7 linked regions of the Homo sapiens genome follow. The protein of the gene in region 1 interacts with the protein of each later gene in a pairwise test. Each region holds a gene or a part of one and is shown in the gene's direction. Other genes may lie near its edges.

What was found.
Region 2: the proteins of NECAB2 (region 1) and PRKAA2 interact in binary tests that used the Homo sapiens proteins (3 or more experiments, as listed by UniProt).
Region 3: the proteins of NECAB2 (region 1) and FXR2 interact in a two-hybrid assay, tested with the Homo sapiens proteins (2 studies listed by BioGRID and IntAct).
Region 4: the proteins of NECAB2 (region 1) and C19orf25 interact in binary tests that used the Homo sapiens proteins (3 or more experiments, as listed by UniProt).
Region 5: the proteins of NECAB2 (region 1) and KANSL1 interact in binary tests that used the Homo sapiens proteins (3 or more experiments, as listed by UniProt).
Region 6: the proteins of NECAB2 (region 1) and DGCR6L interact in binary tests that used the Homo sapiens proteins (3 or more experiments, as listed by UniProt).
Region 7: the proteins of NECAB2 (region 1) and NEK6 interact in binary tests that used the Homo sapiens proteins (3 or more experiments, as listed by UniProt).

The regions. Positions count from the first base shown.
Region 1 is NC_000016.10:83,981,744-83,985,243, forward strand, and holds part of NECAB2 (N-terminal EF-hand calcium-binding protein 2), read left to right. Parts: intron 1-3,500. UniProt on the Homo sapiens protein: May act as a signaling scaffold protein that senses intracellular calcium.
Region 2 is NC_000001.11:56,693,814-56,697,313, forward strand, and holds part of PRKAA2 (5'-AMP-activated protein kinase catalytic subunit alpha-2), read left to right. Parts: coding exon 1-39; intron 40-2,121; coding exon 2,122-2,346; intron 2,347-3,500. UniProt on the Homo sapiens protein: Catalytic subunit of AMP-activated protein kinase (AMPK), an energy sensor protein kinase that plays a key role in regulating cellular energy metabolism.
Region 3 is NC_000017.11:7,604,898-7,608,397, reverse strand, and holds part of FXR2 (RNA-binding protein FXR2), read left to right. Parts: intron 1-2,248; coding exon 2,249-2,301; intron 2,302-2,659; coding exon 2,660-2,753; intron 2,754-3,500. UniProt on the Homo sapiens protein: mRNA-binding protein that acts as a regulator of mRNAs translation and/or stability, and which is required for adult hippocampal neurogenesis. Specifically binds to AU-rich elements (AREs) in the 3'-UTR of target mRNAs.
Region 4 is NC_000019.10:1,472,701-1,476,215, reverse strand, and holds the end of C19orf25 (UPF0449 protein C19orf25), read left to right. Parts: intron 1-957; coding exon 958-1,184; 3' UTR 1,185-3,015; downstream 3,016-3,515.
Region 5 is NC_000017.11:46,183,430-46,186,929, reverse strand, and holds part of KANSL1 (KAT8 regulatory NSL complex subunit 1), read left to right. Parts: intron 1-3,500. UniProt on the Homo sapiens protein: Non-catalytic component of the NSL histone acetyltransferase complex, a multiprotein complex that mediates histone H4 acetylation at 'Lys-5'- and 'Lys-8' (H4K5ac and H4K8ac) at transcription start sites and promotes transcription initiation.
Region 6 is NC_000022.11:20,317,261-20,321,242, reverse strand, and holds the start of DGCR6L (protein DGCR6L), read left to right. Parts: upstream 1-1,182; 5' UTR 1,183-1,254; coding exon 1,255-1,364; intron 1,365-1,443; coding exon 1,444-1,604; intron 1,605-3,982. UniProt on the Homo sapiens protein: May play a role in neural crest cell migration into the third and fourth pharyngeal pouches.
Region 7 is NC_000009.12:124,313,449-124,316,948, forward strand, and holds part of NEK6 (serine/threonine-protein kinase Nek6), read left to right. Parts: intron 1-474; coding exon 475-537; intron 538-3,500. UniProt on the Homo sapiens protein: Protein kinase which plays an important role in mitotic cell cycle progression. Required for chromosome segregation at metaphase-anaphase transition, robust mitotic spindle formation and cytokinesis.

The DNA.
Region 1 (3,500 bases):
CCAGGAGGCAACTGGAGAGTCAGTCATCCAGGAGCAGAGAGCAGCCATAGGGCACACTGGTCCAGGCCCACGGTGAGGGAACTGGGAGCATGCAAGGGTGAGGGACCCACAGGTGCTCGAGGCAGCAGCCACCAGCACCCTGAGCTTTGGGAGTCCAGAAAAGCCCAGCCTTGTCTGCCGGTTGAGGCCGGGGAACTTAGCTGATAAAGCCAGCCAGACCTGGCTGAGGGATCTGAGCTGGTTATTTCCCTTTCTGAGCCTCAGTTTTTCCATCTGTGAAATGGAGACATCCACCTTATGAATTACGAAGTCCTTCAGAGATTGAGCCAAGTAAGGCCTCTGAGCTATTGAGCATGCAGGACCAAGCTCGGAGCAAAGGCACCTGCTGGTTTGTATCAATACGCTCCTACTGTACGCTCAGCCAGATATTAAAACCCATTCTGTGCAATTTTCCCATGCTTCTCAGTTAGTGACCGCCATGTATTAGACAGTCTCTGTTTTGCCATATATCTAACAATAGTTGGGCCTCATTCTGGGCCTCCACGATTCCACATTTCCATTTCTGTCCCAGTATCATGCTGTTTTGAGTCTTGCTGTTTTAGAGTATATTTTAATACCATGTAAGACCTGCTCCCTTCAAGTATTAATCTTTGTAGAATATCGTTTGATATCCCCAAGTATCAAGGTATAGGCGGTGGATTAGAAGGTAGCATGGGAAGATCCCAGGCTTCCGAGTCACCCAGACAAGGGTGGCAATGCCAGCTCTGCTCCAAACAGGCTGTGTGAGGTCACCATGTGCTCACAGATGACCCTGGGAAATGGAAACCACCTCCTTGAGCCTCGGTTTTCTCACCTTAGAAGGGGCCCACGTCCTAGCCATGCTGTGAGGCATTCGTAACATCCATGGTTGCGTCTTGGTCTTCAGTCAGACTTTTCAGGAACATAAGAGAGTTCTCCATCAGTGTCTACTGATACAAGTTAGACCGGTTTTAGAGATCTTGCTCTTGGAAGTCATGTGCGTATGATGTCAGGGGTGGTCTTTGGTGGTTTTTTTGTGGCAGTCGTGGTGATGATAGGTTGTTGCATCCGTGATTGGCATTTCCTTTTTTTTTGTTTTCTTTTTCTTTTTCTTTTTCTTTTTTTTTGAGACAGAGTCTCACTCTTGTCCAGGCTGGAGTGCAGTGATACAATGTCGCCTCACTGCAACCTCTGCCTCCTGGGTTTGAGTGATTCTCCTGCCTCAGCCTCCCGAGTAGCTGGGACTACAGGCGCCCACCACCACTCCTGGGTAATTTTTGTAGTTTTAGTAGAGACGGGGTTTCACCATGTTGGCCAGGCTGGTCTCAAAGTCCTGACTTGAGGTGATCCGCCCACCTCGGCCTCCCAAAGTGCTGGGATTACAGGTGTGATGTGATTGGCATTTCTTTTGCTTGCGTATTTCCTAAGTGGTTTTTGTTTGTAGAAATGCAGCTTGTCGGTTGTTGTTTTGAATGCTTTTCTTGTATGTGCTGTTTGCTTTCGTCAAGCCGCAGCATCAGTTATTAAGAGTGCCGTTGTCTCTGCATTCTAACACGTGCCCCTCTTGCTTCCCTGTCTATCCTGTGGCATTTCTCTCATGTTCTAAAACGTCGTGGTGGGGCACGGCCAGGCATGCTTGTTTGGCTCCTGATTTTCGAGTGCATCTCTAGTACTTCTCTGCTGATTATCATATTAATACCAGCTCTTATTTTAGAATCCTTGTCAGCATGTTGGAGAAATATTTTTGCATTCCCTTTTTTCCATTTTGTCTTAGGAGGGTGGTGGTGAATTTTTTCAAATGCCTTTTGGTATTTTTAAATGATCATATGATTTTTTTCCCCTAAGCTATTGATGGGGTGGATGCTATTTTTAGATTGTCTCAAATTGAACAATCCTTCGCTCCCTGTGATAAACCCTAATTGGTATATTATTCTTTTATCACATTACTGAGTCCTTGTCATGAGCCAAGAATTTTATCTCTGTCTCCATTGGGAGTGGAGATCGGATGATAGCTTGGGAATGATTTTGTGAAGTGGTTTTGAATGTGTTCTGTGTATGAATCAGCTTCTCTAACATAGCATCATTTTTCTACGTAAAAATAGAATTTATCCATAACGCTTGGGTCTCAGTGTTAAACAGGGGAGGGGATGATTTTCATAGTTATTTTAAGGTCATCTCTACTTTTAGTCAACTTTTTCACTTGTCCATTGTAAAATACATATATATATATGGTGGTTTTTTTTTTTTTTTTTTTGACGGAGTCTCGCTCTGTCATCCAGGCTGGAGTGCAGTGGCACAGTCCCAGCTCACTGCCAGCTCCGCCTCCCGGGTTCACGCCATTCTCCTGCTTCAGCCTCCCGAGTAGCTGGGACTACAGGCGCCCGCTACTACGCCTGGCTAATTTTTTGTATTTTTAGTAGAGACGGGGTTTCATCGTGTTAGCCAGGATGGTCTCCATCTCCTGACCTCGTGATCTGTCCTCCTCGGCCTCCCAAAGTGCTGGGATTACAGGCGTGAGCCACCGCGCCCGGCGGAATATTTTTAAACAAAACTGCCCTGGGCATAGTCGTTTTTACAATCAGTCATGCATGGAATGTTTTATGATTATTTTTAAAAATCTAAAACATTGTTTGACACACGCAGGCACTTAATGCACATTAAGTTCAATAAAAGATCTGCTGCCGCTCACGGTGGCTCACGCCTGTAATTCCAGCACTTTGGGAGGCCGAGGCGGGAGGATCGCTTGAGCCCAGAAGTTCAAGACCACCCTGGGCAACATAGTGGGACCCCGTTTCTACCAAAAACAAAACAAAACAAAATTAGCCGAGCATGGTGGGATGTGTCTGTAGTTCCCACCTTCTTGGGAGGCTGAGGTGAGAGGATCTCTGGAGCCTGGGAAGTCGAGGCTGCAGTGAGGCACAGCATGCCGCTGCAACCCAACCTGGGTGACAAGAGAAACCCTGTCTCTCAAAAATAAAAAAATAAAATGTGCTGCTGTAGCTCACATCTTAAGTTTCTCCCATTTTTCTACATTTTAAAACCTTGTATTTGACAGTTTTGCCTGTTTTAATTAGCTGTTTCAAATAACAAGCTCCTGGCACATTTATTTAAATTTCATGACATGTTTTCTTATTTATTTATAGCTCCTATCATTATTATTTCCTCCCTCTTATAACTTTAGGTTTGTTGTTTTTGCTGTTCTTTTTCATATGTGAAATGGAATGGTTTTTTTGATAATGTTGACATTTTTAAAATTTACTTTTGATGGGGGCTGGGTGCAGTGGCTCACGCCTGTTATCCCAGTACTTTGGGAGGCCGGGGCGGGCAGATCACCTGAGGTCAGGAGTTTGAGACCAGCGTGGCCAACATGGTGAAACCCTGTCTGTACTAAAAATACAAAAATTAGCCGAGCGTGGTGGCAGGCGCCTGTAATCCCAGCTACTTGGGAGGCTGAGGCAGGAGAATCACTTGAACCCGGGAGG
Region 2 (3,500 bases), on another chromosome or scaffold:
ATCTCCAAATTATGCAGCACCTGAAGTCATCTCAGGCAGGTAATAATCAGTGAAGCATAAGCTTTTTGTAATCTTGTGTTCATTTTGATAACATTTAATTACAATATATTCTCTATGGAAGGTAAGATTTTAACATGGTAGAAATGGATTATTCATTTATTTTTCCACTGTTAAAGGGATAATGGTTATATCAAAAAATGTTAAACATTTCATTTAGATGTCATTATAAATATACTTACGAAGTTTTCCCCATTAGAAAAATAACTGAAGTAGATCCTGATTTAACATATCTTTCATTTTACAAAAGTGCAGATAAGAGAGTAAGAATTTGCTAAATTTAAGCTAGTGTCATTTATTTATTAGATATAGTTCTTTAATAATACCTTGCATATTTTCCAAAGTATATAGAGCATTGTTTTATATTTTGTGTTTGGAAAAATGAGATTTTGGGGGAAAATATTGTTTCATGAAATTACACAAGTAGAGATTGTGTAGTTACTCATAACTTATTCATTGGTACATTATAAAAATGTTTATACAGATTGCAGTGGTAAACTCAAGTCTTTCTACAGTGATCAACGTGTGATTTTAAAAGTTAACAGAATCCTATAAGAGAAAATATGGTTAAAGTATTATTGCAAATAGCAGATAAAGAATTATCTTAGTCCATTTGGGCTGCTATAAGAAAGATACAATAAAGGTGATAGCTTATAAACAACAGAAATGTATTTCTCACAGTTCTGAAGTCTGGGAAGTCCAAGATCAAGATTTGGTATCTGGTGAGGGTCTGCTTCCTAATAGACTACTGTATGCTCACTGTAACTTCACATGGTGAAAGGGACAAGGGATCTCTCTGGGGTCGCTCTTATAAGGGCACTAATCCCATTCATGAGAACTCTGCACTAGTGACCTAATCACCCCCCTTAAGTCCCCACCTCCTAATACTATCTCCTTGGGGGTTAGGATTTCAACACATGAATTTTGAGAGGACATAAGCATTCAGTCCATTGCAAGGAGTTTGAACAATACAGCAAATGATGTAAACAATCACCATTTTTTATATAAACAGATTATATTCTTTTCATTAGAATAGTAAAGATTTACTTTGTTACCTCAGACCCAGGTTTGAGTATGGTAATATGCTATCATGGGAATTGTAATGCTGTAGAAACGTAAGAGAAAAAAGGAATAATACTATAAGCATAGGTTATCTGGATCAAAGATGATTTTAGTCATATGAGTTAGGAAGTGATGAGAATAGAAATAGTAAGTACTCAGGATAATGTGATACAGGATAAATACTGTCTACACAGTACTAATTAAGTACTTTAATGTTTTAAATATCTCTCTCTCTATATATATGATATATTATATATATATATATATATATTTTTTGTTTTGAGATAGAGTCTCGCTCTGTCACCTAGGCTAGAGTGCAGTGGCACAATCTCAGCTCACTGTACCACCTCCTGGGCTCAGATGATCCTCCCACCTCAGCCTTCTGAGTAGCTGGGACTAAGATGTGCACCACCATCCCTGGCTATTTTTTGTATTTTTAGTAGAAACAGCGTTTCACCATGTTGCCCAGGCTGGCCTCAAACTCGTAGCCTCAAGCAATCCGCCCGCCTCAGCCTCCCAAAGTACTAGGATTACAGGTGTGAGCTACCGTGACCAGCCTTAATATTCTTTAAAGGTGTGCCAGGGGTAGAAATTCTATTATATGTATACATTATATATATGTTTTCTTTCTTGTAATAGTTCTTTGGGAAAAAGATTTAACCTATACACCATAGTATTTTTTCAAGTTTGTGGTCATCTACTTTGTTTCCCTCAAAAATCAACCACAGAAAGTATTATATGTTTTAATTCGTATGTTTCAGTTAAATGAATTTGTGACAAATAAAAATACCCTATTCACTTGGCAGGCTTGAATAGTAGTTGGCTAGCCCCATTACTCTCTTTGGGGAACAAACACTGAATATTGGGGAGCAGCCATGGACTTCATTAAAGACCTTGGAAATGAATATGTACTGAATGTAGACTACCTATATATAGAAGTAGGGTACATAGAGAAAAAGTGATTCTTGCATTTCAGGTTTGTGTTGTCATCTTTTTTCTTAGATTGTATGCAGGTCCTGAAGTTGATATCTGGAGCTGTGGTGTTATCTTGTATGCTCTTCTTTGTGGCACCCTCCCATTTGATGATGAGCATGTACCTACGTTATTTAAGAAGATCCGAGGGGGTGTCTTTTATATCCCAGAATATCTCAATCGTTCTGTCGCCACTCTCCTGATGCATATGCTGCAGGTTGACCCACTGAAACGAGCAACTATCAAAGACATAAGGTGATTTTTCTTTTTGTTTCTGTTCTGCATATTTTCTCATAGGAATAATAATGTTAATTAAATGATTCTCCCAAAGTCTCATTTCCTGCCCTCACCACCTCACCCCAGTACTCATGCTTCAGCCACATTGAACTTGTCCTTGTTTCTCAAACCTAACATAGATTTTATGCCTTCATGTCTTTGTTTATATTATTCACTTTGCCTTGATGTCTTTTCTTGTTTCTTTTTTGACCTGATAGACTTCCATTCATCCATTAAAGTTCATGCCACCCCTTTTGTGATTTCCACACGTGCTTCCATTTCTGTTTTATCAACATTTTGTTCATGCTTTTATTATTTAATCCTCATCCTGTATCTAGTTATTTCTCAGTGTGTCTTTTTTCTCTCTTAAATTATGATATCAGGGTAGAGAGTGTGTCTTATTCATCTTTGACTACACAATGCTAAAAGGCCTGGAAAGATGGTATGCTTAGAAAGTGTCTGAAGAAATTTCAAATGGAGAAATAGGGTGAGATTTTGTATTTTACATATGGTTAAAGACATAAAGCATAAAAAGTTTTGCTAAGTTTTTGAATTCAATAGCTGCTAGTCAGCTTACTGTGAAGGCTTTTTTGTCACTTGAGAAAGTTTGGAAAGTGCCATTGCTGATGCGCCTATGAATATGACCTTTGTATATCCCACACCTGTGTATAGTAGCAAGATGATTCACTGCATCCTGCCTATGACTTATCAAGGCATGTTTCTTAGAGGTTTTTTCTTCTTACCTAAGATTTCATCCGTGTTTGTTTACAAACATGTTCTTTTGACATCTTTCCAGAACTCTTTCCCCTTTTCATCATTAGCCAGCAAAGAATTTTTTTTTTTTTTTAAGGCAGGGTCTCACTCTGTCGCCCAGGCTGGAGTGCAGTGGTGTGATCACAGCTCACTGTAGGTAGCCTCAACCTCCCAAGCTGAGGTGTTCCTCCCACCCCAGGCTCCTGAGTAGCTGGGACTATAGGCACAAGCCACCACACCCAGCTAATTTTTTTTAATTTTTTTATTTTTAGTAGAAATGGAGTTTTGCCATGTTGCCCAGGCTGGTCTTGAACTTCTGGGCTCAAGCAATCCACCCACCTTGCCCTCCCAAAGTGCTGGGATTACAAGTGTGAGTCGTT
Region 3 (3,500 bases), on another chromosome or scaffold:
CTAGTCTCGAACTCATGGCCTCAGCTGATCTGCCAGCCTCGGCCTCCCAGTGTTGGGATTACAGGCGTGTGCTACCGCCCCTGGCCAGAAAGGATAGTCTTCAACAGACAGTGCTGGAACAAGATATCTTTAGGTAAAAAATGGGCTGGGCACAGTGGTCACACCTGTAATTCCAACATTCTTGGAGGCTAAGGCGGGTGCATTGCTTGAGTCCAGGAGTTCAAGACCAGCCTGGGCAACATAGCGAAACCCTGTCTCTATTAAAAAAAAATTTTAATTTAAAAATATATTAAAAATAAAAAAAAGTGGCCTGGTGCGATGGTTCATACCTGTAATCCCAGCACTTTGGGAGGCTGAGGCGGGTGGATCACCAGAGGTCGGGAGTTTGAGACCAGTCTGACGAACATGGAGAAACCCTGTCTCTCTTAAAAATACAGAATTAGCCAGGGTCGTGGCCCATGCCTGTAATCCCAGCTACTTGGGAGGCTGAGGCAGAATTGCTTGAACCTGGGAGGCGGAGGTTGCGGTGAGCCAAGGTTGCACCATTGCACTCCAGCGTGGGCAACAAGAGCGAAACTCTGTCTCAAAAAAATAAATAAGAATTTAAAAATTTAAAAAACATTGATCAATACCTCACCTTATATATAAAATTTAATTCAAAATGGATCATAGGCTGGGCACAGTGGCTCACATCTTTAATTCCAGCTTTGGGAGGCTGAGGCAGATGGATCACCTGAGGTCAGGAGTTCGAGACCAACCTGGCCAAGATGGTGAAACCCCGTCTCTACTAAAAATATAAAAAATTAGCCTGGTGTGGTGGCGGTTGCCTGTAATCTCAGCTACTCGTGAGGCTGAGGCAGGAGAATTGCTTGAACCCGGGGGGTGGAGGTTGCAGTGGGCCAAGATTGCGCCATTACACTCCAGCCTGGGTGACAGAGTGAGACTCTGTCTAAAAATAAAGGATTATAGATGTAAATGTAAAACAAAAAACTAAAAGTTTAAGAAGAAGACATAAGAGAAAACCTTTGTGGCCTTGGATTAGGCAAAGATTTCTTTTTCTTTTTCTTTTTTTTTTTTTTGAGATGGAGTTTTGCTCTTGTTGCCCAGGCTGGAGTGCAATGGCATGATCTTGGCTCACTGCAACCTCTGACTCTCAGGTTCAAGTGATTCTCTTTCCTCAGCCTCCCAAATAGCTGGGATTACAGACATGCACCACCACACCTGGCTAATTTTTGTATTTTTAGTAGAGACGGGGTTTCACCATGTTGGCAGGCTGGTCTCGAACTCCTGACCTCAGGTGATCTGCCTGCCTCGTCCTCCCAAAGTGCTGGGATTATAGGCGTGAGCCACTGTGCCTGGCCTGGGCAAAGATTTCTTAGATATGAAACCAAAAGCACAGTTGATAAAATAATAAATTCATAAGCTAGACCTTTTTCAAAATTAGAAATCCCTAATTGTATGTGAAAAATAGGGAGAAGGTAGAAAAATTGGGAGCATAGGGGTGAATGCATGGCTTTGGCCTCCTTAGTGAGGACACAGACCACAGGAGGTGGATCAGCTGTTCAGTCATCCCTCTTGCTCTTGTCAAAATATCAAGATTGGAGTCTTCCATAAATTTTATTATCCTTTATAAATTATCAGTGTCATTCTAGATTCAATTCTAGTATTAAAAAACCGATGTTTTTAAATTAAGTCTTAATTTTTCCTTCTGTAAATTGTGTTCATCACAATTTTGAACTTGTCTAGTGTTCCGATTATTGTCTTAGGACCCATGCATCAGGGCAGCGAGTCTGCTCAGATCTCTTGCTGTATTGCGGAGGTAGGCCCTTCTCTCTCGACAGATCCTCATGTCCTCTAGGTGTTCCAGGACAGCCTCACACTGTCTCATGGGATATTCTTAGCCTTGCTGAATGTTGTTGGTATTTTAATTGAACTCTGGCAGGCTGCTTAGCACAACAGGAGGCAGACAGATAGGGAGGCCCCTGTGGGAGCCTGAGTAGATCATTGGTTTCCAGGCTGTTCTGATGCAGGTGGTACATACACCTCTCCATGACAATATCATTTCCTTTCTCTGTTTGACTGCCCATATTCTTTCCCCAGTGCAGCCTTTCAGGCTGTCTCATTACACCACTTGTGTCCCTATCTAAAACTCAAGTTTAAGGTTTTGTGGTGTCTTATTCCCTTGATGGCTAAGGTGGAAGTAAAAGGTCATTTTATTTTTTTTGCTTTTTTCTAAAATCCATTCTAGGGCTTTGTGAAGGATGTCCATGAAGACTCTGTCACCATCTTCTTTGAAAACAAGTAAGACCTTGGGAATAGAGAATCCAGCATACTAGGTCCTAGAAGGAGAGTGGAGAAGAGGGGGCAGCTGAGTCCTATGAGGCATGTAATAGGTTGGGAGAGCTGAGGGTTTGGGTGGGAACTCATATGGATCCCAGGAGAGGAAAGGGCTGAGAATTTGGTGAGGGTGGGGGCATTTGACCCAGTATTTAGAGTCTAGAAAGAGATGGAAGACACTACTATGGAGCAGGGCCTGGGGTTTAGCCTCTAATTATCCAGATAGGTGGAACTCGCCCAGCTGAGGCAATAACCCTTTTGTAAAGAAATGGGCAACCATATCAGTCAGAGTAGCTTTTTCATATTATTGTTTCTATTATAGCTGGCAGAGTGAGAGACAAATTCCTTTTGGGGATGTCCGGCTACCACCTCCAGCTGACTATAATAAGGAGATCACAGAAGGGGATGAAGTGGAGGTAAGGGCTGTGGAGTACACCTTTCTAAATGTCACTTTTCCCCAGGATTCTAGGCTTTTCTCTGGTTGGTTCATGTTCCTTCCTCCCCAACTAAGCCATATCCAGCCATGTAGCCTATGGAAATGTAAAATGCAACAGTTCCCCTTTTATCACTGTTGTGATCAGCCAAACTCTCAGGAACATCCCCAGTTTCAGGCGATTTGCCTTCCATTTATGGTAACAACATCTAAAATCCAGTGCCCTCTGATTTTTTTGTTGTTGTTGTTGTTGTTGTTTTGAGATGGAGTCTTGCTCTGTTGCCCAGGCTGGAGTGCAGTGGCGCGATCTCAGCTAACTGCAACCTCCGCCTCTTGGGTTCAAGCAATTCTTCCACCTCAGCCTCCCAAGTAGCTGGGATTACAAGCACCTGCCATCATGCTCGGGTAATTTTTGCATTTTTGTAAAGACATGGTTTCACCATGTTGGCCAGGCTAGTCTTGAATTTCTGACTTCAGGTGATCCACCCGCCTCAGCTTCCCAAAGTGCTGGGATTACAGGCATGAGCCACCATGCCCTGCCGTCCTCTGATTTTAATTAGTTCCTTCCTCTGGTTTCTTGTATCCTTGGTTTAAGATACATCCCAGGCTGGATGCAGTGGCTCACACCTGAAATCCCAGCACTTTGAGAGGTCGAGTGGGGCAGATCACCTGAGGTCAGGAGTTCAAGACCAGCCTGGCCAACATGATGAAACCCCATCTCTACTAAAAA
Region 4 (3,515 bases), on another chromosome or scaffold:
GGGCAGGCCAGAGCCGAGGGGCCCCTGACGCTTCTCTGAGTGACCCTGAAGTCGGTGCTGCTTCAGCCCTGCTGCACTGGGCTTGCATACGTGGGGGAGCAGGGAGCCATACGTAGTTTCTGCTGAATGTGGGAGTCACCAGGACGTCAATGCCCACCTCTCACCTTCGCCACCCCTGCCTCCCTAAGTGTGTGCTCCAGGAGGTTGCACGGCCCCTGGAGAGGTTTTCGGTGGCGGGCTTGTTGCGTCTCTGGCTTCCAGAGACAGCAGGAATGAGAGCCAGGCCAGCTCAGTGGAGTCCATCCCGGTGGGTGCCACGGCTTTTGCAGGAATGGAAGCCCCGCCCCCAGGAGGGCCACTGCTGGCGAGGCTTGAGCTCTTTCTGTGACCCGATCCCCCTGGTCACACGCTTTGCTAAGGCGGGTAGCCTAGAGCTGGAAGCCCCTCCTGCCACCCAGCCACTGTGCCTCTCCCAGCTGATGGACGAGGAAGCCTCCATTACTTGATTTTTGTTTTTATTTATTTTTGAGACAGGGTCTCATTCTGTCACCCAGGCTGGAGTACCGTGGCACGATCATAGCTTATTGCAGCCTCGGCCTCCCAGTCTCAAGCGATCCTCCTGCCTCTGCCTCCAGAGAAGTAGGGACCACAGATGCGTGCTACCACGCCCAGCTAATTTTTGTATTTGTATTTTTTGGTAGAGATGGGGGTGTCACTATGTTGTCCAGGCTGGTCTCTAACTCTTGGGCTCAAGTGTTCCTCCCGCCTCGGCCTCCCAAAGTGCTGGATTACAGGCGTGAGCCACCACACCTGGCTGCATCCGTCATGTTAAGAAGACCCCGGCTGGCAAGCTCACTCGGGGACTGCAGGGAACCCTGCCCTTTGGGGGCAGTAGTGAGGGGTGCCCAGGAGGATGGGGTGGTCAGCAGGCAGTGATGCTGCTGTGTCCTGTCTCAGACCCCCCAGTTCCCTTCAGGATGATGGAGGATGCGGAGGCCCCGGGAGAGCAGCTCTACCAGCAAAGCCGGGCCTACGTGGCTGCCAACCAGCGGCTGCAGCAGGCGGGCAACGTGCTGAGGCAGAGGTGTGAGCTCCTGCAGCGAGCCGGCGAGGACCTGGAGCGGGAGGTGGCCCAGATGAAGCAGGCAGCATTACCGGCAGCCGAGGCTGCCTCCTCAGGCTGACCTCTCGGGGCCTGCAGGCTTGGGCAGCGCACAAGGTGGCCTGCACCCAGGCTTTCCCTGGGGGTCCGTCGGCCCCAGACTGGCATTCACGGGGTCCCAGCCCACGTGGGTGTTGACACAGGCGCCCCTCCTGATGCTGGGGCTGCGGTTCATCCGTCGTCTCATTCATGCCGAGTTGGTGGGACCCACCCAGCTGGCTCCGTCCTGCGTGACCTGAGGGCCCCACTGGGGTTCTGGAAGAGGATAGGGACATTATTGCTGTACTGTGATTCTGTCGTCAGCTCACAGTGGCCGTGCTCTGCAGTGGGGCCCCTGGGAGCAGGTGCCACCTCCTTCCTCTCCCGGGGCAGGCACTCGCCTGTCCACTTCTGAGTCCAGGTGTTGGGATCGAGGTGTTAACTGTGATTCCATCCAGCGAGTGCCCACCCAATGTCAGAGCAGCCCGAGGGCCAGCCTGAGCCCCTGACCCCACTTCCTTCTGGGCCCCGGGCTCCTCCCACAAGCCACGTTGATCTTCACAACGACCCTGGGCCGCTGGGGTCACCCAAGAGAAGCAGCCCTGAGACCCAGCCAGGCTGGGCCTAGCTCCACGGCACGGGTGTCTCCCAGCCACTGCCCTTGCTGGAGGACCGCTGTGAGTCACTGGCCAGGAGCCCAGGGTGTCCTGAGTCTCATAGCCACCCTGCCAGCTGCAGCAGGTCCTGGGCCTGCTTCCCTGCGGGTTCTGGCCCTGGGGGAGGGGGCGTTAGTGCGGCGGAGGGTCTTGCCAAAGGCTTTTCATCCTAAATAGCAACTTGAGTGGAAACCTGGGCAAGGCGGCCCAGAGGCTGGGCCCTGCACATAAAGCTTTCGTGTGTGTCTGGCCGTCTGAATGGTGCCTCTGTGAGCGGCTCCGTCCCGGGGCCCCGGAAGCTGGGGAGGGATGGGTACCGGCGACCCCGGGAACCCTGCTCAGTCCTGCCGGGCACTGCATGCAGGGACCGTCCGCCTGACCCAGAGACCTGGGGCTGCCTCACCCTCTCTCCAGACCCACAGCCAGCTTTGTTTCTTGAATGTGGAAGATGTTTCTTATTCCCTGAAGAAAGGGGGCCTGCCACACACAGCCTGGGAGGCGCCTCATCCAGAAACTGGGACTTGGCTAGCCCGGCCTGGGCCCTAGGGACTTCTCACTGGTCATGCTTCTGAAGCTGCTCACCTGGCCGAGGGAGGTCCCGGCAGTGTCCCAGGGTGGAAGGTGGGGAGGGGGCCGGCTCCTGCCATCCCTTCCCACCCTGCACTTCTGTGCTGCTTGCAGTCATAGCTTTCCTTGTCCCCCCAGCTGGGCCAGGGCTGTGCTCCCTGAAGTGGCTTTGACGTGGGGCCGTCCCAGCTCCCGCAGCCCCTGTCCACCATTGACTCTCCCCGGTAGTGGCTGCTGTGGCTGCCCCATCCCAGCTGTTGCACCAGCCACAGCTCCTAGTGGCTCATGGGTGCCTCCTGCCCCACACTGGGGCCTGCCATAATAACTGGCCCAGGTACCAATGCCCAGGTTGGACCCCCTGTCTGGGGTGCTGTGCACCCCCTGGAGCCTGCCCTCCCTTGGGACCAGGGGGAGACTCCTGGCCTCAGCCAGTGCCTCCCCGGCCCATCTGGGTGGGGTGCCCACAAACCCTGTGCCCCCAGTTTCTGCTTTCTGGCTCTGCTTCCAGGGATCTAACCTGGGGGGTCTCAGCAATTCTGTGGCAGCACATAGACAGCGATGAACCTACCCGCCCACAGCCCATTTTGAGGAAGAGGTGATGGCGGCAGGCAATGCAAGAGCTCAGTTTATTAAATGTGTGCGAGTCGGACAGCTGACGGTGTCGTCCTTACGCCGGACAGATGGCTTTACATTTAGGGAAGGACAGGCTTTCACTATTTACCACTATTTACACGTCCGTTTAACACTGCAGAGACCCGGTACAGAAACGTGGGGTGGCGGCTAGGGGAATCAGACAGACCAGGCGCGCGCCATCAGGGCTGGACCGGGGCAACAGATGGGGCCGGGTGAGGTAATGCTGTCGGAGCTCGGGAGGACCATGCCGGTGGGCACGGCGCCCCGAGTTCAGCACCCACGTGTGGTCATGTTGGGGGCCAGTGGCGGTCACTGTCCATCAGCCTCAGGACACCTCCACCCTCCCTGCGTCCTCAGACCCTCAGCTCCTTAGGACTGGCCCTGGAGCATTGGGGGGCAGACGAGGACCCCTTGTCACCCTGGTGCAGAGAGGCCAGGTGGCCAGGCAGGGGCCGCGGTGGGAGGGAGGCCTTGCAGTGGGCGTACCTTGAGTTGATTGTCCAGAGACCGCGGACTGC
Region 5 (3,500 bases), on another chromosome or scaffold:
AACCCTGTCTCTACTAAAAAAAAAAACAGCAAAAATTAGCTGGACATGGTGGCGCATGCCTGTAGTCCCAGCTACTCAAGAGGCTGAGGCAGGAGAATTGCTTGAACCTGGAGGCGGAGGTTGTAGTGAGCCGAGATCGCACCACTGCACTCCAGCCTGGGCGACAGAGAGAGACTTCGTCTCAAAAAAAAGAAAAAAGAAATACCAGTCTGATAAGTTGAACTGTCAGGAAAGTTTCATTAAACTCTCCATATGTTACCATGGAGAACTGAAGCTCTTTGAAGACCTTAAGCATGTCTCCAAAAAATTGGACTGTATTTTTTTGCACTTAGTGATTTACTCCTTACCCCTTGCCTCCCAAGAGAATGAAAAATGGATATTAGTATTGACTTAACATTTTATTGGCATTGGAAAAATGTACTTTTAAAAGTCATTAATTGACTTTTCTCTAAAGGTATAAGGTAGGTTTCAGTGGGAACTCAGGAATTTGGCCATGGACCCTCCCAGAATAACCTGTTTCCTTTAGAATTCTTTTTTTTTTTTTTTGAGACACAGTCTCGCTCTGTGCCCCAGGCTGGAGGTGCAGTGGCGGGATCTCAGCTCACTGCAAGCTCTGCCTCCTGGGTTCATGCCATTCTCCTGCCTCAGCCTCCCGAGTAGCTGGAACTACAGGTGCCCGCCATCATGCTCAGCTAATTTTTTTTTTTTTTTGCATTTTAGTAGAGACGGGGTTTCACTGTGTTAGCCAGGATGGTCTCGATCTCCTGACCTTGTGATCCACCCGTCTCGGCCTCCCAAAGTGCTGGTATTACAGGCATGAGCCACCGCGCCCGGCCTCCTTTAGAATTCTTAAAATCTTCCAGAAGTCGCTGATTTTAGGATTGTTCAGGAGCACTTACACCAACCATTAGGGCTTGTTGGAAAGAGATATGATAAAAAGTATGATTTTTTTTTCCTCTGTCTTTTGTCAGCTAAAGAGTGGTAGGAAATTTGAATTCAGTGCTAGCATAGAAGTAGGATTAACACCATTAATAGTTTGATATATAGACATCCTTCAGAAAAAAAAGTTTTCTTGAGATGGTATCTTGCTATGTTGTCTAGGCTGGTCTTGAATTCCTGGGCTCAAGCAGTCCTCCCACCTTGACTTCTAGAGTAGCTGGTATTACAGGCATGAGCCATGGGGCCTAGCCTATCCGTGTGTGTGTGTGTGTGTGTGTGTGTGTGTGTGTGTGTGTGTATATATGTGTGTGTATATATATGTGTATATATATATGTTTAATGGGATCATACTTGTTATATGGCTTGATCTTTTTAATTAGGGTTTTTTTTTTGTATTCCAGTTCTTCAGTGAAAGCATTGTGTATACATCTTTGAGTACCTATGAGAATATTTCTGTTGAATAGATTTCTAGAAGTGCAGTTGCTGGGTAAAAGTTTGAGCAATTACATTTGTGATTTTGATGGCTATTACCTTTATAATGCTGTGTAACCACATTTAATAATAGCTTAAAAAGTGTAGTTAAAAAGTTTCCTAGTCTGGGTACAGGTGCTTGGTCAAGTAAATAACTGGAACTTGTAGTGGGTGAAGCCTATCCTAGGTTCAGTTGATGCCTCTTCTTGTTAGGTGGTTGATCACTTCAGACATCCCCATTAACGTCCTAATGGATCTTCATCTGATGGGTTTAGCATAGAATGCTCAGGTTGCTTAACGTGTGTTGGTCTGCTGTCTGCCAGGCATTGTGCTGCTTGTAGGGGACAGAGATAAAACAAGCTATAACCCTCCTTTTTTAAGAAGTACATAGTTGGCCAGGCGTGGCGGCTCATGCCTGTAATCTCAGCACTTTGGGAGGCCGAGGCTGGCGAATCACGAGGTCAGGCCAGGCCAACATGGTGGAACCCTGTCTCTACTAAAAAAGACAAAAAATTAGCTAGATGTGGTGGCGGGTGCCTGTAATCCCAGCTACTCAGGAGGCTGAGGCAGGAGAAACGCTTGAACTCAGGAGGTGGAGGTTGCAGTGAGCCAATATTGTGCCGCTGCACTCCAGCCCGGGTGACAATGAGAGGCTCTGTTTCAAAAAAAAAAAAAAAAAAAAGTACATACTCTGGGGAAGAAAGAGACAAGACAAAATTGTGAGTTTATATTGTACCATGAGCAATAGCCAGGGTGTCATGGGGGTGCAGGTAAGAGCCTAGAGGGAGGGACCCCACCTCAACCTGGGAGTAATGGGGAATACTTGAAAGAGCATGTAACCTTGAGCTGAACCGTGAAAGAGTAGCATGAGTAAAGGTGCAGGGGCATAGAAGAGCCAGGAAACATATGTTTCAGGTGGCTGCAGTGAGGACAGGCTGGAGATGAGGTCTAATGTAAAAAGGGGACAGATAATGGTGTGTGGGGAATTTGGACTCATCCTTACTCTAGAGTCAGTGAAAGATTTTAAATGGTTAGATTTAGGTTTACCCCCTCCTTTCCTTTTTTCTTCCCTTTCTAATAATCATTTTGGTAGTGGACGCTAGATTAGAGGCTTGCTGAGACAGGAAGAAGGAAGAATAGTTGGGAGATTATTACTGCCTGAATTACTATAGTACATAATGAGGTTCTGCACTAGGGCATTGGCACCAAGGATGGAATGAATGTGCCTGTCATTCTGTGTGTTGCCAACCCTCACCCTCTGTGCACCACCTCACCTTTCAAAATTCAGTCAGTATGTCATCTTTTCTAGAAGCCTTCCTTGACCCCTTCAGGTGAAATACAGTACTTTATCAAGCTAGGCTACCTTCACACCTAATTTATATTTTACTATCTTGTATCTGGCATTTAGTAGATGTTTAAATTAAATATTTATGGTAAAAAGTAAGTTGGTGATTTGAGGTCATGATTAACTCAAATAGACAATGTTGAGGAGCAGGAGGAAGTTTTGGATTTGGTGTTGGGGCAGGGAATGGGTTTTGAATATGGGATGCTTGAAGTAGTTGTATAGGCAATGCTGAATTCTACTCATTTCTTTCTTTTTGTTTTTTTGGAGACAGTCTCATTCTGTCGCCTACGCTGGAGTGCAGTGGTGCCATCTCAGCTCACTGCAGCCGCTGCCTCCCAGATTCAGGTGATTCTTGTACCTCAGCCTTCTGAATAGCTGGGATTACAGGCAAAGACGGGGTTTCGCTGTGTTGGCCAGGCTGGTCTCAAACTCCTGACCTCAAGTGATCTTCCTGCCTTGGCCTCCCAAAGTGCTGGAATTACAGGCGTGAGCCACCTCTCCCGGCCCTACTCCTTCCCTTCCTTCCCTCCCTCCTTCCTTCTTTCCCTCCTTTTCTTCTCTCACCTCCTCTCCCCTCTCCCCTGTCTCCTCTCTCCTCTCTCCTCTCTCCTCCCCTCTCCTCTTTTCCTTCTTTTGAGACAGAATCTTGCTCTGTAACCCAGGCTGGAGTGCAGTGGCGTGATAACAGCTCACTGCGACCTCCACCCGCCAGGCTCAAGTGACCCTCCCACTATGCCCAGCTAAT
Region 6 (3,982 bases), on another chromosome or scaffold:
TCTGGGTTGTGGACCGCCCTCCACGGCAGTGGCCTGAGCGCTTGTCATTATTCACTTTATTCATGCCTGGTTTCTGTCTGGAAGGGACCACAAGGACATGGCGTGCAGGGGAGCCAATCCTGCCAGGGACTGAGGAAACAGATCCTGGAGAAAACCAGACACTTTGCTGGCACTTCAGGGGGACCCCAGTTGGTTGGCTCAACGCCCCCTCTTCCCCATAGCCAATTACTAACCAATGTTCTCTCTGGAAACCAGTCATAATTCCTAACCTGGTCAAAGCAGGGTCATCTCACACAGCCCAGCCACCCAGCAGGCAGCTAAAGAGTGCCTGATGAAATGCAAGTCTGATCGTGTCTGCGTCCCCAAGCCCTTCCGTGCCCCCTGCTGCTCTATGGACAAGCCCCCAGCAGCCTCTGTAATGCACAGCACCCGCCCTTGTCTCCTGTGCTGGCTTCCGCAGCCTGGCCACACTGGTCCTCTCGCCCACCCACCTGACCTGACTCTGGCAGGGCCTTTGCAGGAGCCATTCCTCCACCCGAGCCCCTCCTATTAAAGCCTGTTCCTAGACGGTTCAGCCCCAGCCACCAGAAGCCCCCCAGCCCCGGCCCAGCAGCTGGCCTGTGGAGCGGGGAGAGCGCAGTCTGGGCTCACGGGCTGGGGGCCACGGAGGCCCAGATGGGGACTCTGGCTCCGACTGTCCTGACCCAGAGGCTCTAGGGCGGTCCTGTCTGTCTCACCCCGGGGGCGGGGAGGACGCAGACAGACCCCAGCGCCACTGCTCGGCCGCGGATGGTGCCTTAGACCCAGGTCCTGTGGGCTCTGGCCCGAGACCCCTGCCTCTGGGGAGGCCGGTGACCGGGACAGTCCACCTCGCAGGCGCGCCGGCGCGGAGCCCGGACCTCGGCCCGCAATGACTCAGCAAGGGCCGGTGGGATTCTCCGTGGTCCTGCGATATCCAGACGGCGGAGTCTCGCCTTTAATGTCGCGCGGGGAGCAGGCAGGTGCGAGCCTGGGCTGAGCAAAACCCTCCTTGGAGTCTCCGCAGAGGAGCGGGGCGCGCCTCCTGAATAAGCAGGCGGCGGGGCGCGGGGCAGGGCGGGGCAGGCGGCCAGGCCCTCTCGGGACTGTCGTAAAAGGGGGCGGAGCGCGCCGCGCGTGGGACAATCGTAAAAGGGGCGGGACGCGCCGCGCTCGGGATGTCGTGAAGCTGGGGGAGCTCGTCGCCGCCGCCGGCGGCTAGCGGGCGTCCGCGCCATGGAGCGCTACGCGGCCGCCTTGGAGGAGGTGGCGGACGGTGCCCGGCAGCAGGAGCGACACTACCAGTTGCTGTCGGCGCTACAGAGCCTGGTGAAGGAGTTGCCCAGGTACGCAGGCGGGGCGGGCGGAGGCCTGCGGAGGCGGCTTCGTTTCCCGCCGGGGCTCACCGCGCCCCCCTACCCGCAGCTCTTTCCAGCAGCGCCTGTCCTACACCACGCTCAGCGACCTGGCCCTGGCGCTTCTCGACGGCACCGTGTTCGAAATCGTGCAGGGGCTACTGGAGATCCAGCACCTCACCGAAAAGAGCCTGTACAACCAGCGCCTGCGCCTACAGAACGAGCACCGAGGTGCGCGGGGGCAGCGGGATGAGGTGCCGCCTCCTCCGGGTCGGCGCCTCCGGGCAGCTCTTGGTATCTGTGCAGATCAGCTCCTTCCTTGGAAGTGTTCGGAAGAGGTCTCTAAGATTGACAAAATCAACGGGCGCAGAGACTGAGACAGCGCCTTTTTGGTGATCAGTGGGTCCAACCAGTTTTGTTTTCAGTTGCGCAGCACCCACCTTCTTAGCAGAAACTCCCTGTTCGGGCTTCCCTGTGCCCCACGCGCTTCCAGACAGGATGGCCCTAGGCCTCGGTGCCTGATTGGCCTGCAGGCAGACTCTGGTGGTGGCGCTGACTGCAGCAGCATTGCCCCTCAGTAGTTGGAAGTCTGTTGACAGTTGTGCAGCAAGCGTCTTTCAGGGTCAGTTCCCTCTCAGGCCTCGCAGGGCCTCATTCCAGTTGCACATCAAATTCCTAAGCACTGTCTCCTGTGGCGCCCTCCCAAACCCGAAGAGCTTCCCACTTGAGCCAGGCCTGCTTGGTGGGCTTGGGAGCCCTTTCCTGCAAATTATATAGGGCAGGTCCCCCTGCACCATCAGTTTCCACCTTTGTTATTTTTCCCAAACTTCTTATTTTAGAAGTTAAAACATTTAGAAAAGCTGAAAAGATAGTATAGTGCATACGCTTGTGCTCTTCACTAAAGTTCAATAGTTAACGTTTTGCTCTAGTTCTTGACATCCCAAAATATATACATGTGACAGCATAGCATTCACCAAGAGTCTTCAGCATTCCTGGAGACCAGGATTTTCAACCCAGCCATGCTGACATTTGTGGCTGGGTAAGTCTTTTTGGTGAGATGCTGTCTTGCGCATTGCAGGATGGCAGGGGTACCCTCCCTAGTCCTGAAAACCAAGAATGCCTCCAGACAACCTGGGTGGTGGGGTCAACCTTGGCCTTGGATTGGGAGCAAGTGCTCTAGAACAAAACTGGTCTCCTACACAGCTGCAGAAGGTAGCCCCCTGAGAAATTAACTGTTCCGGGTGTCTCCTGACTTTCAGTGCACGGCCACATCATGGTACCTAACTTGTGGCAAATTGTTGCTTTATAAGTAAGGATCCAGTCCAAGTTCATGTACTACAATTGGTTACTTTGGTCTCTTTGCTTCTGAAACAGTCCCCAACATTTATTGTGGCATTGACTTTTTTGTAGAGTCCAGGGCATTCTAATTTTATAGAATGCCCTGCTCTTGATCTATCAGACGAAATGCTTCCTCTTGCATTTAACCTGCTTCTCCACTCTCTGGGTTTCCTGTACACTGGACTGCTGGTAGAAGCCTGATTAGAAGCAGGTTTAATGTGGCAAAAATTTCTCCTAGCAGTGCAAGGCCCCCTTCCCCAGAAGGCAGGCAGTGTCCATCTGCTCCAGGATTGGTGTGTTTTTATCAAGAATGGATGTTGGATTTTGGCAGTTCCCTTTTCGGCAGCTCTTGAGATGATCACGTGGTGAATCATTTTCTATTACTACAGTGAATTACAGTCACTTGAATTCCATCCTACTGGGTCGTGCTGTAGTATCCTTTTTATGTATGCTGGATTTGATTTGCTAAAATCTTAAGAATTTTTTGGTCTATGTTCATGATAAACTGTGGTCTATAGTTTTCATGTAATATCTGGTTTGGGTATCAGGGTTTTTGCCAGCCTTATAGGATGAGTTTCGAAGTGTTCTCTCCTCTTCAGTTTTCCAGAAGAGTTTGTGTAGAATTGGCATTACTTCTTCCCCTAAATGTCTGGGCGATTGTCTTTTTAAAATTTTTTATTGAGCTGTAAGATGTATGTAGTTTACTAATCCCAAGCGCATGGCTCATTATTCCTTAATGCCCAGACTGTGCCATGTGTGGCCAGTTGGGGGCGCTCCAGGCACCTTTAGATGCCGCCCCATCATTCTGTGAGCACTTTCTTGCTTTCTGGTTCAGGTATGTGTTCAGGCTCATCTTTTCTTGTTTTCTCCGTGTCTCAGTCCTGGAATCGGCCATTTTTCCACAGAGCTATAGTTCCTTATAGCAGGATGGGGAGTTTTAGTAACTGCCTGGGCCCAATGCTGTTTGTGCTTCAGAAGGTTTGGGCCAGGCCCTGGTTCCACCAGCAGCAGGCATGCCTGCATTGACTTTCTGCTTCTCCTGCTGATTTGGCAGGGGCGACTGGCTGCTCCTGCCTCCTTTGTGTTCCCTGGTCATGTCTAAGGCCAGGCCCCTTCTGCCCAGGCAGCCAGCGTGGCTCTCTTCTTGCCTTTTGGTTGTCTATCTAGTGGAATCTGGTAGTGGACCTGGCACTTGTAGCAATGTTTGATCAGTAGAGTGAAGGAGATGACATTTCCCTGCTTCCCTGTGTTATGGAGCTGTCTTGAGGGGG
Region 7 (3,500 bases), on another chromosome or scaffold:
CCTCTGCCTCCCGGGTTCAAGCGATTCTCCTGCCTAGGTCTCTTGAGTAGCTGGGACTACAGGCGTGCACCACCACACCCAGCTAATTTTTATATTTTTAGTAGAGACGGGGTTTCACCATGTTGGCCAGGCTGGTCTCGAACTCCTGACCTCAAGTGATCCACCCACCTCAGCCTCGCTGGGATTACAGGTGTGAGCCACTGTGCCTGGCCCGCCCTCTCCATCTTCTGGGGAGGGGCTCACCTGGGCTCTCTGTCTTGGTTCTTTAGTGCCACGATGGGTTTTGTGGTGGGACAGTGCTGGGGGGACCCACAGTGAGCAAGCCCTACAGGGGCTGGGAGTGCAGGGGGGGGTCACAGAGTCCCTTGGTGAGGAGGTGGGAGAGCCGGGACTGGAAAGCAGACCCCGTGGCCTCCTTTGGGTCACTGGACACAGATTGTAACCACTCTATTTCTCTTTTTCCTCCCGCCCAAGATCTTTGAGATGATGGACGCCAAGGCGAGGCAGGACTGTGTCAAGGAGATCGGCCTCTTGAAGGTGAGCACCCTGGGCCGAGCGGGAGCTTTGCCTCCTCGGGGAGGTTCTGGGGCCGCGGCTGGGCCACATCATGTCCATCACAGCCCTTGGGTGCCAGGAATCCGCAGCCCCTGCTAAGTTAACAGACGATAGCTTTCTAGGGGCAGCGGCTAGTGAGTTTTCTCCTGGCCAGGCAGGAGCGGCCCGCCTCATCGCTCTGCCCAGCCCTTGGGGTCGCTGCCTACAGCCTTTCCTCCTTGCTGCACGCCCCTCCTGCTTGTACATGGCAGTACCCGGCATAGAAGTCCTTCCCCACAGGGCAGCCCTGACCCTGCCTCGCAGTGGCCTATGGACCAGGCTTGGCTAGGGGAGGAGTTCATTGTGGGGACCACATCCAGACTGCAGCCTGTCTGGCTCTGCCTCTGTCTCTATGTCTGTCTCCCTGTTTTTCTCTTTCTCATCCTCTTTCCATCTCTCCTCTCAGCCTTTTTCTTTGGTTTTGTTGGTAGTGGTGGTGGTGGTGGTGGTGGTGGGTTTTTTTTTTATTTTAGAGGCAAACTCTGTTGCCTGGACTGTAGTGCAGTGGCATGATCATAGCTCACTGCAGCCTCAAACTCCTGGGCTCAAGCAATCCTCCCGCCTCAGTCTCCCGAGTAGCTGGGACCACAGGCGCATGCCACCACACCTGATTTTTATTTTTTATTTCTTTTGTTTTTTTTTGAGACAGAGTTTTGCTCTTGTTGCCCAGGCTGGAGTGCAGTGGCACAATCTCTGCTCACTGCAATCCCCACCTTCTCGGTTCAAGCAGTTCTCCTGTCTCAGTCTCCTGGGATTACAGGCACCCACCACCACACCCAGCTAATTTTCATATTTTTAGTAGAGACAGCGTTTCACCATGTTGACCAGCCTGGTCTCAACCTCCTGACCTCAGGTGATCCATCCACCTCAGCCTCCCAAAGTGCTGGGATTACAGGCGGGAGCCACCGCACCCGGCCCCCCATGAAACATACTGGATTTGCTCGGCAGTTTCCAGCAAAGTGGGACTGCTGGTGGCAGGGCTGCCCGCCGAAGCCACAGCTGCAGAATTTCAGATTAGCAGTTTTTTCTGCCACACGCTGCCCTGTGTTCTCAGGCCTTGGCCCTGCTCTTGGGGACTTCCAGGCTGGTGGGGAAGCAGGTAGGAAGCAGATGGTGACCTTCCAGGGTGATGCAGATTGACTGGTGGGCCAGGAGCCCCAGGGAAACCCGCTTCCTGGGCAGGCCTCACAGAGGGCAGGGCACCATCCCAGAATCTGGAAGGCCGAAGTGAGCCTTCTTCCAGGCACCGCAGCACCGTGGATTATGGGAGGTTGGGGAGACAGAAGGCTGGACATGGCAGCAGAGCCAGATACACACTCAGAACAAAAGGGGAGCCCCTGAAGTGGCTGCAAGTCGGGGGGCCATGGCTGGGTGTGAGTTGTGAGTGCCTGCTCTGGTGGCCCCCGGCCACAGTGGGTGAGGGAGTCAAGGCTGGAGGCAGGAGGTGTCCTTACCACTAACTATTATAGGTCAAAAAATATCCCTCGAAAACATTGTTTAAATGTTTAAGTAATGGTCAGCTTGCTGCCACTTACCCAGCCCTGAGGAATGTTTGTCCTGATCACCCATTGCCCCCTCCCCACCTCATGTGCCCTTCTCCCCGAGTGAAGGAACCCACAGGTGAGCATGCTGAGCACAGCCTGGTCTGGTCCCTGGTCACACAGATGTGCCACCGCAGCCCCTGCCTTGCAGGAGCCTGAGCCTGGCGTAAACCCACATGGCTGCAGAGGGGATTTGGTCCCTTCTCCAGGGCTGCCATGCAGCCAAGGGCACCAAGCCGGGGTTTCAGAGGACACACCCCTCGCTCACTAGCTGTGTGGCTGCAGGCCAGCCATGGGCCTCTCAGGACCTCAGTTTCCTCATCTGTAAAGGGGGCATGATGACAACAGGGACGCTGGAGGAGTCAGTGAGGAAGCATGTCTGACGAGCTCAGGGCAGCGCTGGTGTGTGGTACGCTCGCCGCCCAAGGCAGCCCAGTTGTCATGGTTGCCACCTCTGCCCGCCAATGCCAGCCGCCTTCCCGAACACGGGTCCCACTCCACAGGTAGCCCATGGGAAGTCAACAGGATGTGCCAGGGCACGAGGTGCTTCCTACAAAACAAAAGGAAACGTGGTTTTCGGAGGGGTGACTGTTGACATATCACATCATTCATGCAAAGAACCCAAACCCAAAACCTCTCAAGTGCGGGGGCTGGTGGGGTCGGCAGCTGCCAAGCGTGGGACAAGAAGGTGGGTCCTGTTGGAACGCAGGCGTGTGTTCATTCATTCTGTGCAATTTCTGATCACCACTGAATGCTGGACACCAGGGTGCAGCCCAGTGGAGAAGACAGATCATAGACACTCTGTGTTACATCCGGGAGGGCCTGGAGCTTGGGAGCAGAGCCCCTGATGGCAGAGATTCAAAGGACAGGGACCCTTACTCTCAGCTCTCCCTCCCTTCCCTCTGGCCACCACCACAGCCAGACAAAGCCCAACCACATTGCGTCTTTGCAGCACCTTCCCTGTCCCTGACCCAAGTGTGTCCCCTTCCAGACCCACCTGGGCCCACCAAGAGGCCACAGGCTGTGAAGTGGACTCCATGTGGACCAGGTTCTAGACTCAGCTCGGCCCCTGCTTGCTGTGGACCCGTGGCTGATCCCTTCCCCTCTCTGGACCTTGGCGATTTAGCCCAATGGACGTCTGGAGCCCCTTTCTGCCTGTGCCTGTGTAGACTGCCTGGGCATTTAAGGGAGCCCTTCCTTAACCCCCTGCCCTCAGACGTGCAGGGAAATGGGGGAGGAGTCTCCCTCCTCCCCTCCCCAGGAACCAGCGCCTCCTTGATGGGGCTTTACTTCCTACCCAACCCCTCTCATTTCTCCCTTGTTGGAGAAACTGTGTCATGCCTGGACTGCTGATGACCTGGGCAG